2 separate regions of the Homo sapiens genome follow, and region 2 is linked to region 1. A link means that fine-mapping ties the variant in region 1 to the expression of a gene that starts in the linked region. Tissue or cell type: pancreas. Region 1 holds a variant in brackets; the other region holds the start of a gene. All regions are shown on one strand. Distances are from middle to middle.

The links. PIP is the estimated chance that this variant, and not a neighbour inherited with it, causes the effect.
Region 2: ANO3 starts here. The variant in region 1 is fine-mapped to the expression of ANO3 in pancreas (GTEx, PIP above 0.99).

What each region holds. Positions count from the first base shown.
Region 1 is chr11:26,466,533-26,474,643 of GRCh38, reverse strand. The region is part of intron 4 of ANO3 (anoctamin 3); the gene reads right to left. Among named protein-coding and RNA genes, the nearest start is that of MUC15, 100 kb to the left of the region's middle. The variant T/C (reference allele first, on the strand shown) is at 4,929.
Region 2 is chr11:26,327,146-26,335,256 of GRCh38, reverse strand. It overlaps ANO3 (anoctamin 3), which reads right to left and starts at 3,127. Exons shown (of 27, transcript NM_031418.4): 1 at 2,936-3,127. The coding sequence starts at 2,981. LOC105376598 (a long non-coding RNA gene) reads left to right here and starts at 3,283. Exons shown (of 3, transcript XR_931138.3): 1 at 3,283-3,395; 2 at 3,622-3,737; 3 at 6,532-7,004.

The DNA of each region.
Region 1 (8,111 bases):
GTTGAAAACATTTTGTTCCCTAGCTTACATCATAGTGAACTTCGTACCTGATGTGATTTATTTATTTTAACATTTAACACTATGAGATATGCTCCTTTAAGTTCAGATGTTTTTCTGACTTTCTATTTTGATGAAAACCAGTTAAAAATATTGTATAAAATTATTAAGAAAAATTGAAAATATTTTAAAGGTAAATATATTTTATGTTTTTGAATAAAAAACCATTTTAGAGTAGATGCTGTAATTATTTCAATGAAATCAATAAATACATTCAAAAAGACAAAACTTCAGAGGTGATATTTGGTTTACATGCAAGATAAACACAGATATTTTAAAAATAACACATTTAGATCATACTTTACTTTAAAATATATATCTAGTATTTTGAAATAACAGATACACTCAATTCCAATTCTGAAATCAATATTAATTTCTCTCAATTGGCTTCTCTACATATGTTTAAGAAAATAGAAAAATAGTATAGAATTCCTAGATTGATGCACTTTTAAACATACCACAGTCAGAATTCTGAGTTCAGCTGCATTTGGAATCCTTCATTGCTGACAACAGTCTCAAATGACAATCTTCTTTAAAGCACTCTTCAGTGTGACAACTGAAAGTTCTCCCTTTCACCGCCTGCTTTTTCCATTAACTAGAATGTTACATACTGAGTGCTACACAAAGCATTTGACTGGAGGGTTTTTAGCCTACTCTCTAAATGCCAGAGTTTGAATAATCATTTTTTTTTAAAGATAACTCATCTCTTTATAAGAACATCTGTATTTTTTATTAATTTCATTTTAGGAGTTGGTTATAGGGTGGAATAGGGGGCTGCTTTCATGTGTCATTGGTTAATGTCTATGCATGAGTCACCTAAGTGACATTTAATCATATAACGTCAGTGACATTTTTATGATTTTACTGTCAATTATTAATAATCTATTGTATGTGCCATTTGAGCTGGGCAGATTAACATGGGAGGTGGGAGGTGTGTTTCAGTTTGATAATAGTGGTCTGGAAAATACTAACTTTTTAAACGGTGAACTAGGTAACACTTTTTTGATAGCGGAGTGGAGTTCACCAGGAATTCCTGTAATTTTTTTTTCTGGTTTTAAAGGAAATTGCCTCATTTTCTTGTTCACTGGAGAAAGGTATAATGGAAAGCTTTGTGGTTTCTGAAAAATCCTGCCTGTGTTCAACTTGACATTGCATTGTATTGTCTCTGAGCTGCACATAATGATATGATTGTAATCTGAGAGCACAGGAATTAACTGTCACCTAAAGGTAAACAAGCAAATAAAATTGAATGCTTTTGTCCTCATTTACTTAACATCCACATAAGAGATGCAACAGAGGATTACATTTATTTCTGTTTTAAAAATGCCTCTGTAGGGCAGCTTGTAATTGGAACTGACAAGACACTGAACCTAAGAAGTAACCACTTAATGTATATGGTCTTGAGTTAATAAGCATGCTTTAAAATTGATTTTCTAGCAGGTTCAAGAAATAGAAAAAATAACTTCACACAATGTTTGAAACAGTTAAAGAACAAATGGTATATTACTCTAATATGTAGGTTTAAATTGTCTGTGGCATGAAGGGATTAATGAAAGCAAATGGGTTTCCGTGACTGAAACCCTCATCTGGAATCCTGGTTTGCATCATGCAAGAAGTCAACCACCACAAACAAAACAAGAATTAGTTTTTTAAAACAGAAGTGTCAGAAACTATTCAGTAAACACAACAGTGCTTTATTCTGTAGGTATTTTCTTCTCTACAGTGATAATTCCTCAAAATATTCATATTTTGATTGACTGGTGAGGTTAAGAAGGCTGTGTGCGGAAATACATGGAGAAAGATGACATGGGGAGATGAAGGGCTATAAGCCGCAAGCTAGGGACAAGTGTTTTAAAATTTATCAGGATCTAACTAAGCACAGGAGCCTCAATTTTATTATATTTTCTTAAGTATAAAACATTGAAAAAACCCACAATATTCATGCTGCCTAATAAACATAATTTTCCAGTAATGTGAACATGACCCCTAACTACCCAATTCACTTGTCTCATGGTTTCTATAGTCCCTTGCACACACCTCCATTACGTGCAGTGTAGCACAGTGCTTGACAGCATGGTCCCTGTATATAATTCCTGCCTCCTCCTTACCAGCTGTGTGATAACAGGAAAGTTACGTAGCCATCTAAGCCTTCATTTCCTCACCTATGAAATGGGGGTAAAAATAGACCTTACATTTTAGAGTTGTGATGATAGAAAAGTAGAAGTCATTAAAATCCCTGTTAAGATCCCTGGTAAATGTTAGCTGTTGTAATCATTTAACATTATTATTATTAATATTGAAACTTCCAATCCAGTGTTCACAGCCTGGAGGGCTTGGAGGTGACAGATTAAGGAGGTAGATTTGACTTTCAGTATGCTCAAATAACACGGTTTCTGATCTGTCTTCTCTGGCTGCTTTCATGTCTGAACAACTAGAGAACTATTTGATTTGAGCCTGTGATTGATTGAATGTTTAAATATCAAGTAGAACCATTATCTGCACCATTTAACTGGAATGCCCATACATTAATTTATTGAATTTACTTTCACATCCCATCAAACTATGTATACTTTTTTTGCAGAGAAGTTATTGCAGCTCTCATTTTAGAGCTAACATCCTTCAGGGAGGCTTAGGAGATATATCTTCCAAAATAAATTCTTAAGTACTCATGGGAAAAACAAATTGGTGATTCGAGAAACCTCTATGTGTTTAATTACTGAGACATTAGTGTCAGGGGAGAGAAAACACCTTTGACTTATTTTTTGTTTCTTTGTATCATATATGAAATACGACTTCCTAAATAGGCACATTTTTTTCCCCTTATAGTCTTTCTGGGAACTAAAGGCATCTACCCCAACAAATCCATCTCTCACCTAATTTCATTCTCTCAGGTAAATCGTCTCATGTCATGACTTCCTAGCCCTCTGCTATAGACATATTGCAGCTCTACACACAACTGTTGGCAGCTGTAGGAGCTTTTGTGCAGTTTTATTTGTTTTGTGATGGTGGTGGTGTTGCTGCTTATTTCATATTTTGATTGGTAAGGGGAGTTCCCATACTGTAATAGATTCAGTTGAAAATATTTAGTCTACTTATTATTATTTGATCCTAAGGAATAGAAACTTTCTATTATTTGACTACTTTTGTTGAGGTTTAGTGATATTATATTTGTAACAAATTATCTATTTTTACTTAGGGGTTTGTTGATACAAGAATAAATTACAAACAGGTCAATCTAGTTACAGGAGGTTGTAAATTAGCCACACAATTTAGAGCTGCCTTACTTCAGAGTAATGTTTCAGGGTTTTGGAAAGAGATAAATCTGAGAGTATATCTCAGAGATTGAACTGGACACAGAAAAGCCGAGTCTACAGTTAAAGAGACACACCACAGTGCAGCTCTGGTTCCACCTAGCTTACAGACTTGGGCAATAAACGTTTCTGTTAATTCCTTATTTTCTTGTTTGTCAAAATGAGAGTATTACTACCTAATGTCATTGAATTATTGTGAAACTTAAATTAGATAATGTATATAAAGTGCTTACCACAGCTTCTGGTGCAAAAGTGATCAGTGCATATTAGGACAAAGAAACTGAAATGCTTCTTACCATGGTTATTGGGCTAAAAAAGGTGAAGTCCTGAATGGCTATTGTCATGCCAGTGTAACAAAATGGAAAAACTGTTTGGAAAACAAGACTATCTTATTTTAAATCCTGGCTCAGTCATTTATTAGCTGTATGAGATTGTAAAAAGGTAATGATATTATAATATTTATGGCTTAAATCTATGAATACTTAAGTTTTATGTCCTTTGAATTTTACCACCCGGTGTTAAAAACTATAAACATCTCTTGTATATCATTCTAAATATTTTCCCCATGAAAACCAGCTAGATATTTTTATAGAATTGGCATTATACTGCACATTTTTTTACAGCCACTTTATTATATAATTATACACTGTGATCATGTCCTATTATCCTTAAATAGTTTAGAGATTTTCAACATAGTACTGCCTTGTCTGAGGGCATTACGAATTACTATTTTAAATGTTATCATTTACTCTTGACTCTGGAAGTGGTCCTCCCCCACCACAAATTACAATGTGAGAAACATTCTTAAACAGAATTATTTGGGCTAACTTCTTGCTTTTTTTTTTTTCTGTTTTTTTTTTGAGAGGGTCTCCCTCTCTCTCTCTCTCTCAGGTTGGAATGCAGTTGTATAACCATGGCTCACTGTAGCCTCCACCTCTCAGGCTCAAGTGATCCTCCTGCCTCAGTCTCCCGAGTAGTTGGGACTACAGGTATGTGCCACCATACCCGGATCATTTTTGTATTTTTTCTGTAGAAACAGGGTTTCACTGTGTATCTCAGCCTGTTCTCAAACTCCTGGGCTCACACTCCAGATTACTTATCTGCCCTCCTCAGCCTCCCAAAGTGCTGGGATTATAGGCATGAGCTACCACACCCAGAAATTTGGCTAACTTCTAATTGCATTCTCTGCATAAATTCCTAGAACTAATCAAAGGGCAAAATTACCTTTAGGTACTGAACCTTCCTTGTGAAATTGTTTTCCAGAAAATTTGGCTCAATGTACATATTGGCCAGCAAGGAATAAAAATGATAGCTTATAGTTTAAAAGTACAACAAAACCTAATACTGATATAAACAATTTCTAATTTCAAAAAACATTGCTTACATTTGTATTTCTGTAATTAATAGTACAGCTGATCGTTATATATGTTAAAATTACATTGCTTTTCAATTTATTTCATTCTTACATTATAAATTACATTATAATATCTGTGTGAATTAAGAATATTAGCCATTCTTCTGGCATATATATATTTTCCAGTATGTGAGCTGATCACCACA[T/C]CTTAAGCTTGTCTCTTTTTGATTTTATCAGAATTTTGACACTGATATATTTAGTATCTAAATAGTAAGTCTATCCATGCTTAATTTTATCACTGATTTTAAAAGTCCACTTAAAAAGGCCATTTTTCTATTCTGTCATTAGAAAAATTGTTTATTTTTGTTTTGCTTTGTTTTCAATATATTCAGTTTGAGTATACCTCTTTAGCTCTTCAGTAATTCATTTGTTATGTGAGATGTCGTCTAAGAATATTTTAACTCTTTCCAAATAATTGACTAGTTGTTGTGAGAACATTTGAATGTTTTTAAATGATTAATATTTATTTCCTGATGTGAAATGCTACCTTTATCATAACATATACACCACTCCCTCACATGCGCCTGCACACACACATACATGCACACACCCAGGTTTAAGCAGTCTACAGAAAATTTGAAGCAACTCTGAAAACTCTTGTACTAAATCTTTTGGAAAATTTACACTAGCAATCAGCTAATGTAGAACAAGTCTTCACCATTTACTTAGAGAGGTTTCCGAGGGTCAAACTAAGTACTTAAATGGCACAAGGAAGGGAGATTCCTTTTAGGGTTGCAGGGAGGATAATGCCTTTTCAGTATTTCAGAGAATACAAAGACTCTGAAAACAGGACGAGATTACTTTGGACTGATTGAAAAGGAGACTTCTTAATGTTAGGTAAGAAGAGACATTTAAAAACATGGACAAAAAGATTAATAAGCCAAGGTGATTTTCTGTGTAACCCATGTTTTATATGAAAATTAAATATTTAGGATACCACTTAATAATATAAATAAAAGGTTACTTCAGGTACTAAAGTTAAATGAATATTAATATTTTCTTTAGAAACTGACTATCCCAAAAAGAAGTAAAATTTATTCTCTTAGTATTTCATGTATAATCTTGTCCATTAAAGCAGCCATATAGAGCCAAGTTAGTCATTCATCTTGTAGTTTGTCATCACCATCTCACAATATCTGGACAAAAATAGGAAGTAGCACATTCAGAATACTAAGTCCTATACACAATTTGAGGCAAAGAGCCATTTAGGCAAATGAAATAGTTCCTGACATCCACATAAAAGGTATGCTGTAGAAGACTACAAAAGCTATCTCTTTCTCACCTTCTCCATCATATGACCAGTGTCTCCAGTCCTAGAGAAAATTATTTCTAATACTCATTGAGATAAAGATGAGTACCATCTGCCAATGCCAGTTGACACAAAGTGAATGGCCTTGTGATCTAATTTTAATGAACTGCTAAAATATTCATGTCCAGATTTTCCTTGTCTATAACCTTCTTCCTGTTTGATTTGATACCCAATATCCTTTCAAAGGTGAAGTCACTGTAACTGAAAAATAGATTAATATTCTCAGACTCATTAATGGCAATATCTGTAGTTAATTTGGGCATCGTAAGTGACAGTGGTGGACCCGTGAAATATCCCAGCTGAGACCGAAAGAGCTACGCAGCTGAGCTTCACTAATGCCCACTACGGATGCCATGGATTCTTTACCGTAGGCTTATTCCTGCTAACCTAGATTAACTATAGATAATCCCTGTAAATTGACCACATCTAGAGGCCTCAGCTGGTATGTGGGATGTGGCTCCTTGGTGGAGAGAGGGATTCTAGTTTTGAGGATCACACAGTTTGGTGGTAGGACCTCATTATCTTCAAATGTTGTTCTCAGTGTTCTCCATATTCATGAAACAAGAAAAGACGATATTTACCCAAACCATCTTAAAAAGAATCCCCCTCATTTGCTCTAGAACTTTGCTTGCAGTCAGGCCAGGTCCTTCAGTCTATGGATTTTTGGGAATGTTCCTTTCCTTTCATTACAAAATGCTTCCTTAAATTGCTTAGCCACATAGGGATGAAAAAGCCTTTTGTCAAGAGGTAAGACAGAAAGTAAATTGGTCTTAAAGAAAAGTTTTATAAAAGAAATATCTGCACTCCCATATTTATTGCAACAGTATTCACAACAGCCAAGACTTGGAAGCAACCCAAGTGTCCATCAACAGGCGAATGGATAAAAAAAAAAAAAGTGGAACATATACACAATGGAGTACTATTCAGCCATAAAAGAATGAGACCCTGTCATTTGCAACACTATGGATGGAACTGGAGGTCATTATGCTAAAGGAAATCAGTCAGGCACAGAAAGACAGACTTTTCATCTTCTCACTTATTTGTGAGAGCTAAAAATTAAAACAATTAACTCAGAGATAGAAAGTAGAATGATGATTACCAGGGTTTGGGAAATGTAGGGCAAGGGGAGAGGGGATGATTAAATGGGCACAAAAAATATTTTGAAAGAAGGAATAAGATCTATTATCTGATAGCACAATAGGGTGACTATAGTCAATACTGATTTACTTGTACATTTTAAAGAGTATAATTGGATTGCTTGTAACACAAAGGATAAATGCGTGAGGTGATGGATACCTCATTTATCCCAATGTAATTATTATATTTTGTATGCCTGTATCAATATATCCCATATACCTCATAAATATATACATTTACTCTGTACCCAGAAAAATTAAACTGTTTAAAACATTGCATGTTTGTGACTGCTGTTAACTATAAACACATTTTGATTAATAGTAATCTTGGAATTTTACCTTGATTTAATGTTTTCACAAGGAAGGCACTTTTGTAAATAGAGTTTTTAAAAAAAACAATTTTAGAAAGTTTTAGATAGGTTGCTTAAATACCATGTGATTTCAGTTATGCTATTTAAAATATACTTGGGCTCCATAGAATTAAATGCATGCTGTGAATATGCTGTGTCAAACTCTGCGACAATTTTGCAAATCTTCCTAGACACTGAGGAAGAATTAACTTCATATTAACAATCATTGGTATTAGCCAATGTGTTATTCTTTAACATTTGTGGTTGTCTCCATTATCTCTTGCAGAGAGACAAACCATCCCCAAACAACTCTTTGGCTCATGATTCTGTGCACAGGCTGGACTCAGCGGGGTAGCTCTTCTGGTCTCAGTTGCGATTTTTCATAGGTCTGATTTTCCTGGCCTTTGCTGTTGGATTCTCTCATCTCTCTCTGCCTCATTTGGGGCAACTGTGCTTATGAGCCTCTGGTCCCTGTGGTCTCTTCTCCTCCTCAAGACTAGCTCTGACTTATTCACATGGTAAAGGGAGAATCCC
Region 2 (8,111 bases), 140 kb after region 1:
CACCTTATAACTCTGCAAGATAGACATAATTATCTTCATTTCACATAAGCAGTTACTGTGGCTTAGTGATATTAAATGACATAACCTGTAAGTAGAATATATTGGATTAATATCCAGGGCTCAAAATAAAGACCAGAGATTAAATTAATAAATTAGGGCTTACATACAGTATTTCATTTCCCAGATAACCAGTCTGGCATCTATACTTATCTATACTATACTTATACTTACCTATCAAAACCAATTTTGATCGGGGATTGGTTAATACATAGTTCTCATATATAAAGGAGAATCCCTATGCCTTGTGTAGAGTTTAAATATTGAGTGTGTCTGTTTTTCAATTAAGGGTGGAAACTTTAAAAATAATATAACAAGGGTGATTTCTAGTTATATCAGGCTATTTCTAGATATTTTCAAGTTGAAATCAAAATTTTTAAAAGAGACATTGAGCTCACTTGAATAAAACAAAAGTAAATTCCATCAACTGGATTTTTCAGCTAAATTAATTCGTAAAAGTAAACTAAAAGCAAGGCTCTCCTCTTTATCTGGTCACAGAAGAAATCATCTCTGCCTTCATATGCAAACCGTCCCTCCCATTAAACAGAGGAAGAGAGACAGAAAAGGCCAAAGGGATTAGGAATGTATTCTGTTCATGTTATGTATGAAGCAAAGTCCAAAGAAATTAACCACTTTGTTGAAGATTTCTCAGCTAGTAACAAACGCAAGCTTAGAACCTAGGAGTACAGAGTTCCACTACAGAATTTTCTCCATTTTAATGTGCAATTTTCAGGTTAATTTTATGGTGAAAAGCACATCTGAATGTTTTGTTGTTGTTGTTGCATACCTCCTAGGACAGATCACATCTAGAGAATTATTTTGCTTCTTCCTATTTGAAGAATAAAAATAGCTAATCCTCAATTTGGTCTGTTTTTTTCCTAATGCCCATGCAGGATTAAGAAGCCATTAACCAGAACCACTTAGCTAAAATGAATCTTGCTTCCTTCCTACCGGAGTACTCCTCCTCTAGATTTGTATCCTTTTGCTGAAGTTGCCTTTTGTGCCAAAGAGTAAAGGAAGACTTGAAATTAAATGGCTCATAATGCATCATAAAGGAAACAATGTGAAATGCCAGCAATTGCACAATTTCTTATCACTCTCTTTGAGCAATGACGGTCGGACCTACAGTTGTCAATTATTTCCTTCTTAAAAACACAACATGTATCCATACATAATACATTGTTGTGGGGGCCATTTGAAGCTTCCAGATCCCAGAAATGAGTCACCCATAGCCAATGCATCAGTGGAGGTATTTATTCTGTGAGGCTGTTGCAAAGTTCCTATCATCTTTGTCTTCATTCTGAAAGTTTATGTATGTTTAAAACCATGATTAAAGAGAACACAACTTCTTGAAGCAGTTTAACTTTATTTGAAATGTTTAGAGTTGAAGTAGAAGTGCATACTAGGTGAAATTTTTGTCTACCCCTACAGTCTCACACATCACTCCCAATTTCAACATATATTTGAAACATCCTAGAGAACTTGGGCTTGAACTGAGTACAGAATTATGGAACTGGAAACTCAGTCAGTCCCATATTCTGTCTTACGCAGGAATCCCTTCGAAATTGTTTCTTGTGTGTTAATCTAGTTTTTGTTAAAAACAAACAAAAAAGTCAAGGGCCGGGTACAGTGGCTCACACCTGTAATCCCAGCACTTTGGGAGGCTAAGGCGGGCGGATCACGAGGTCAGGAGATGGAGGCCATCCTGGCTAATACGGTGAAACCCCGTCTCTACTAAAAACACAAAAAAATTAGCTGGGCTTGGTGGCGGGCGCCTGTAGTCCCAGCTACTCAGGAGGCTGAGGCAGGATAATGGCATGAACCTGGGATGCAGAGCTTGCAGTGAGCCGAGATCGCGCCACTGCACTCCAGCCTGGGCAACAGAGCGAGACTCCACCTCAAAAAAAAAAAAAAAGTCAAAGAGCTACATAAAAACAACTGTTGATGAAAGAAATACAAATAATATCTGGAGGGTGGGGATGAGAATATTTAAGTAAATATTTACTTTGAATGAACAAATTCAGCATTCCAGAATTCACACATCTAAGGCACTCTATGGTTAACTGTATCATAATTACCATTATTAATTCAGCAAAGTGGCAATTGTGTTAATTAATGCTTCTGGATAATAAAACTCCAAAAACTGTGAATGTGCCTCAAAATAAAAATGCTCTGTAAAAAGCCTTTTAAACCAAATAAGAAACAAAGATCAAAGAGTGAGGATAACTTGAACATACAGATTCTTGTCACTATGCCCAGCAAGAAACTTGAGGGAGAAACTAAAAGACATAATACGAAGCCCCTAGAAGAGAAACCTAACCTCAAGAACTTGAAACCCAGAATCAAGCATGGGACATGGGCAAACAATAAATTTTCCCAAGGAAGTGACAGAGCCCCTTTAACTGCAACAGGCCAACTCTGGAACTCCCCCAAGAATTCATTTATCTTATGATTGTGTAAATGCGTCTCAAGGAGTAGACACACTTTTGTGAAGATTACTCAACATTTGAACCACAGAAGACGGCAGATATTGTTGAACATTTCTGTCCTCACCCCTCAGAGCTCTACTGAGCTATTCGGACAATCCCTACTAAGCGGGTTTACTGCAGTGCATTGAAACAGTCTTCACAGAGATATACATTAAGTCAAGTCCTGAAATGACGAATTCCGATACTCCCAGGCACTGTGCGGAGGCTCAGAAAATCACTCATCTAGGATGCAGAGTGAAGAGGAATTTAATTTTTTTTTTTTTTTTAACTTCACAGAGTTCCCCACCTCTGTGTCGCATAAGCCTGCAAAGGATGCTCCTACACAACTGCAAGGGCATGCAGGGGGGAAGTGACGCCCGCAGGGAGAGGGGAGCAAGATTCCAACTGACCTTTTTGCTGTTTAAAGGACTGAATGGAGCCTGAATGGTGGACCATTTTCACTCTGCGCGTCCCAGCCGGCTTAGGGAGCTGCCCGAGAGGGAGGCGGAGGAACAGTAGCCAGACTCTAGACGCTCCAAGGTCCGGAGCCTCAGCGAGCGCACTGCAATCCGACACCTGCTGTAGCCGGCACTTCGCTCTCCAGGCTACGCGCCCGCCGGTGTCGTTGTCATGGGAACGCGGGAGGGCGGTCTAGCGTCCGGCTCCCCTTAGCGGCTACTCTGGGAACAACCCCGCATCCCCCGCGCGTCCAGTGCCACAGTGAGGGGTGGGCGTTGAGCGGGGTTGGCTGGGAGTGGGAGCAGAAGACTTTACTGGAGGAGGAGATATAAATCGGAGCAAACCTCTAGAGCTGATACTGATGCCCTCTTTGCCAAGCTTTGAGGCTGGTTATTTATTTCCTAAAAGTTGGTAGGTAAACCCTGGGACTTTTAAGGAAGGGCAAAGTTGGTCTGTGCTCTGAGAGGGTATGCAGTGGCAGATGCAGAGACGTTTCTGTTTTTCTTTCTTAAATTTAAGTAGAGGGGGCAGAAAGCCACCCCAGCTTAGTTAGCCAGTAGCATGTTTTATTAGGTAAGCTGTGTTCTATGTCTAGCACTTTTCACTTGAGTTTTCCTCTTCTTCTTCTGCCATTCAGGCCTTGAATCATTTATGATGATGATGACTGAGGACCATTTATAACCTACTTAGTCACAGGGGCTGAAAAAACACTACCCACGATGCTCGATTTAATCTTCATAAAAGCCCTGTAATGTAGGTAAACTATGATTCTAATATTATAAAAAGAAACTTAAGATCAGAGCAACAAAGATTTCTCAAGACCACATAAATCAACACCTTATTTGAAAGAGAAGGCACCCGATACCCAAAGAAGTGAAGTAACTCTTTTTGTTTAGTTTGAGAAGTTTTATTTTATTATTTATTTATATCTTCACCATGTATTTTAAGTTCGTGGTACATGTGCAGGATGCGCAGGTTTGTTACATAGGTAAACGTATGCCATGGTGGTTTGCTGCACAGATCACCCCATCACCCGGGTATTGAGCCCAGCAGCCATTAGCTATTGTTCCTAATGCTCTCCCTCCCCCTCCAACAGGCCCCAGTGTGTGTTGTTCCCCCATTGTGTCCGTGTGTTCTCATCATTCAGCTCCCACTTTGAAGTAACTTTTGAAAGACCAAACTGCAGTGGCCAAAATAGGACCAGAAGCTAGCTGAACACATTTTTCAGTAGGATCTCCTTTCCTCCATCTATCTCTGCTCCCTGATTCAAAGCCCTAAGTTCTTCCTGGAAGATGTAAGATGTTATTGAACAGACACATCGTGAGAGTCCGTTGCTTCCTCAGTTTTGAAGTTTTATGGAATCAACTCAGAATCAGGTGAATAATCCAAATAAAAGCAGATAAAAAATATGCAGAAATTTCCAAACTTTCGATACCTCAAAAATATTGAGTTATTATTGTATGCTGTTTGATTCATCTGTGGTGCATGATACAAAAGAATGAGGGGAATATAGCTTTGAACAAACAGATGCTCCAATTATTTATGGATGCATAACAAACTACCCTGAAACTAAGCTGTAAACTAAAATTTATTATTATTACTTATGGATTTTGCAGGTGGGCTAGATTCAGACAGGCAGTTATCTCTCAGAGTCTCTCTTGATTGTTCAGTAACTGGTCTTAAAGTCATCTGAAGCAAAAAGCGAAATTGGATTCTACTCTCAGTGGGAGGAAGAGCAAACAATGTGCTACCTTCTTTAATGTATCATAATGGTCTTTCCAGAAAGAAATGCTGAGCATTCAATAAGAGCTCAGTATGCAGGCATTGAAGAAATACTTGGTTACAGACAATGAACTCAGTGTGAGTTCACCTCCAAATGAAGATCTAAAACACAGTTCAGAGACTGTCTCCGTAAGGGCTTTTAATACAGATATTGTATAGATGAGGGCATTGAAACCGAGAAGAATAAATGACTTGCTCGAGGATGTTTTTTTTAAATTTTGTTCATCCAGAGTTAAAATTCTGATAGAACTCAGCTTACAGATCATTCTGATGTGAACCAACTCATTGATTCTAATGCAACCCAATTCTCCTACGTGAGGATTAGACAATGAATTTAAGAATGGCAGAAAACTAACACCCAATACTTACTAGTCAGTTATGACCCCTGTAGATCTCATTTAAATGTTTAAAACCCCCTTTTAAATCACCGGTTTTAGAATCAGAAATATTTTTGAAATTTAAACTTTAATTCAATCCCTGGTCAGCAGGACTAGTTAAAAGAATTAAAGTCCCCTCGCCGGGCGGTGGCGGGCGCCTGTAGTCCCAGCTACTCAGGAGGCTGAGGCAGGAGAATGGCTTGAACCCGGGAGGCGGAGCTTGCGGTGAGCCTAGATCGCACCACCGCACTCCAGCCTGGGAAACAGAGCGAGACTCCGTCTCAAAAAAAAAAAAAAAAAATTTAAGTCCCTCTATTCCACATTTCTAGGCACAGGTATCACCTTTACCTTCCTAAGATCTTTTTCTGTTGATCCCTGATTTTCTCCAACCTACTCCCTGATCCAAAACCCAGCAGGAGGCAAATATGTATCTGCCAGAACTAGAAATGAGTTGAGATTTTGAACCTCATTGGATTTTTTTCCAAGGAAAGAATGTTTGTTATTATTTCTAACACCCTTGCACCCTAACCTCCTTGGTGCAGCTATGATTAAACTATCTTGTCATAAAGTTAATTACTTTTCTTAAAATTAGAAACATTTTAGGTTGGACTGCCAGATTGACTAGCAGGGGATTCAAAGAACATCTTTGCTTGTTTTAAAATCAGTCTTTTAGGGGAGGTTGCTAGAGGAACAGCTTTGTGAGGGGCCGAGGAAATTTGAAGCACCATCTGCTTTATAGAAAGGCAGTGCAAAGAGAAAAAGATTCCTCTCTCTCTCTCTCTCTCTGTGTGTGTGTGTGTGTGTGTGTGTGTGTGTGTAAAGAAAGAAAGTACGTTTTGGAAGTGTAGAAAGAAGAGTTTGAGCAAAAGCCCTCTTTTTTAACTCAAAATAAAAATTCTGTGTTGGGGTAAAAGGAAGCATTTTGATGGACTGACATTTCCATTGTGGACAGTTTAAGAATGGATAGCAAGTAGCCTCATTAAGGAAAGCTAAGCTAACTATGAACTATGTTGGGTTGCTTTTTCCTACTATTTTTAGCTTCAAACATTTTTCTCCAAATTTTAATGACATGCAAAATGTGTATTTTATATAATGTTTAGTGAGGGGGCATGATTAATGTATAATACACAGTACAGTCTTGACTCTGTTTTCCAAAGTAGAAAAAAAAAGCCTAGAAATAAACATGCGAAAATGTCTGGAGTAATCATGCTTGCAAGTTGAGTAAAGGGTAATATTTTTTATACTTTCATATATTTTTATCATTTTCATACTTTATCAATGATATGTGTTGATTTTATCCTTATTACATGCATAGATCTTCAACCCCCCTACCCATATACCTGTCTTGCTACAACTTCAATTTTTCTCTTTTTTCTCTTTGGACCTAGGGTTTCGTTCCCCTTCATGTTTCTGCTGCTCTTGCTCCCCACAACTCACAACCTGTCTCCTGTCCTCCTTAAGTAATTAACTTTGCAGCCCCCCTGCTAACATTTGCTCCCCAGAGAGGTAAGAAACTCTGATGTTTACATCACTGGGAGACTTTTTATTCCTTTGAATTTCGAAATAGGTCCCTCAGCTCAGCCAGTTGTGAGTTTCTCTGTATTGTGCTCTGTCAAAGGGACTGAGAGAGTCCTGTTTCTGCCTCTTTGGGTCATGAATCACTGCCTTAATTAAAATTGGAATTGTGAATGATACTTCTCATTGCCTAAATGGTAACAGAAATGGAAAAGCAGTACTTTCCTGCTTCTAGTTTCTCTCCGTATATTAAAGACAAAAACCAGCTCTGTAAAAAAGTCATATACTATCATAAAAGGAAAAATGGAGTGAAATTTAACAATTTTCTCCCTAAAAGCCTATGGTTTCTGGCCACATGTGACAGTATAACAGCAGAATTAAGTAGATTCATCCTGATGATATCCAGGCTATATGCTCCGAGTAGCATTCAGAAGTAGTACTACTGATGGGTGTGTCTAAGATAAAGTCATGGAGGAAAATCAGCAGCCTCAACCTTCTCTGAGTCCAGCCTTAAGAAGTCTTACAAAACAGAATTTTAAAAAAATTAATTCTCAAGTGCTTGGAGCACATGGCATTTTGAAGAGACAGGAACACAAAATGATTTGTGTAAGAAGACAGCATCAAGAGAAGGGAGATGTGTGGGACAAAGGAGGTGATGATGGGTTAAACAGCAGTTCATATCTTAGAACCCTGCTGAAAATCTGAATAATTATTTCAAGTTGCCTATAGGATTAAATCCATGTTGTTTAATCTGTCATCAGCTACCTTGTCCCATACATCCTGTGGATATGTTTGTTGCCTTGATTGTAGTGATTGCATGACAGGTGTTTGCATATGTTCAAACTCATCGTACATTAAGTATGTGCAGTTCTTTGTATATCAATCATACTTCAATAATGTTATTAAAAATAGACAATTTAATTTATTTAAACAAAAATCATCAAGTCCATGTTCACTGCTTTACCATTCAAGGGGCTCCATATTTTCTTGCAGCACTTTCCAATATTGTTTCAAAGACCCTTTTACAAACTCTTTTAATCCTATATTGCTTTCTTCCTTATTGGTCTGCTTTTGCTGCTGCTGCTGCTGTTTTCTCCACTGGGAATGATTGTCCTAAAACTCCTTCAGGGAGCAATGACATTTCTTGTATGAAGATATATTTTATCCACATCTACATCTACTGAGTACAAAGCCAGTTAGATGTAGATTTAGCCTTCTCCAATTTCCATCGAGCATGAATAACATCACTTAATGGCATTTTCATAATGTTTCTACCATGCATTATACATGTATGCTTTTGAAAGTAGGCGCATACTTTTCTACCAGTCAAGAAGAAATCCTTTAAAATAGACTTCAGGTTGACTCACTTTTCTATTTGTCATGGTGCCGAAAAGATGATTGACACATAAAAGCTGAGCAAATAAATATTTGCTGAATGAATGGCTTTCCATAA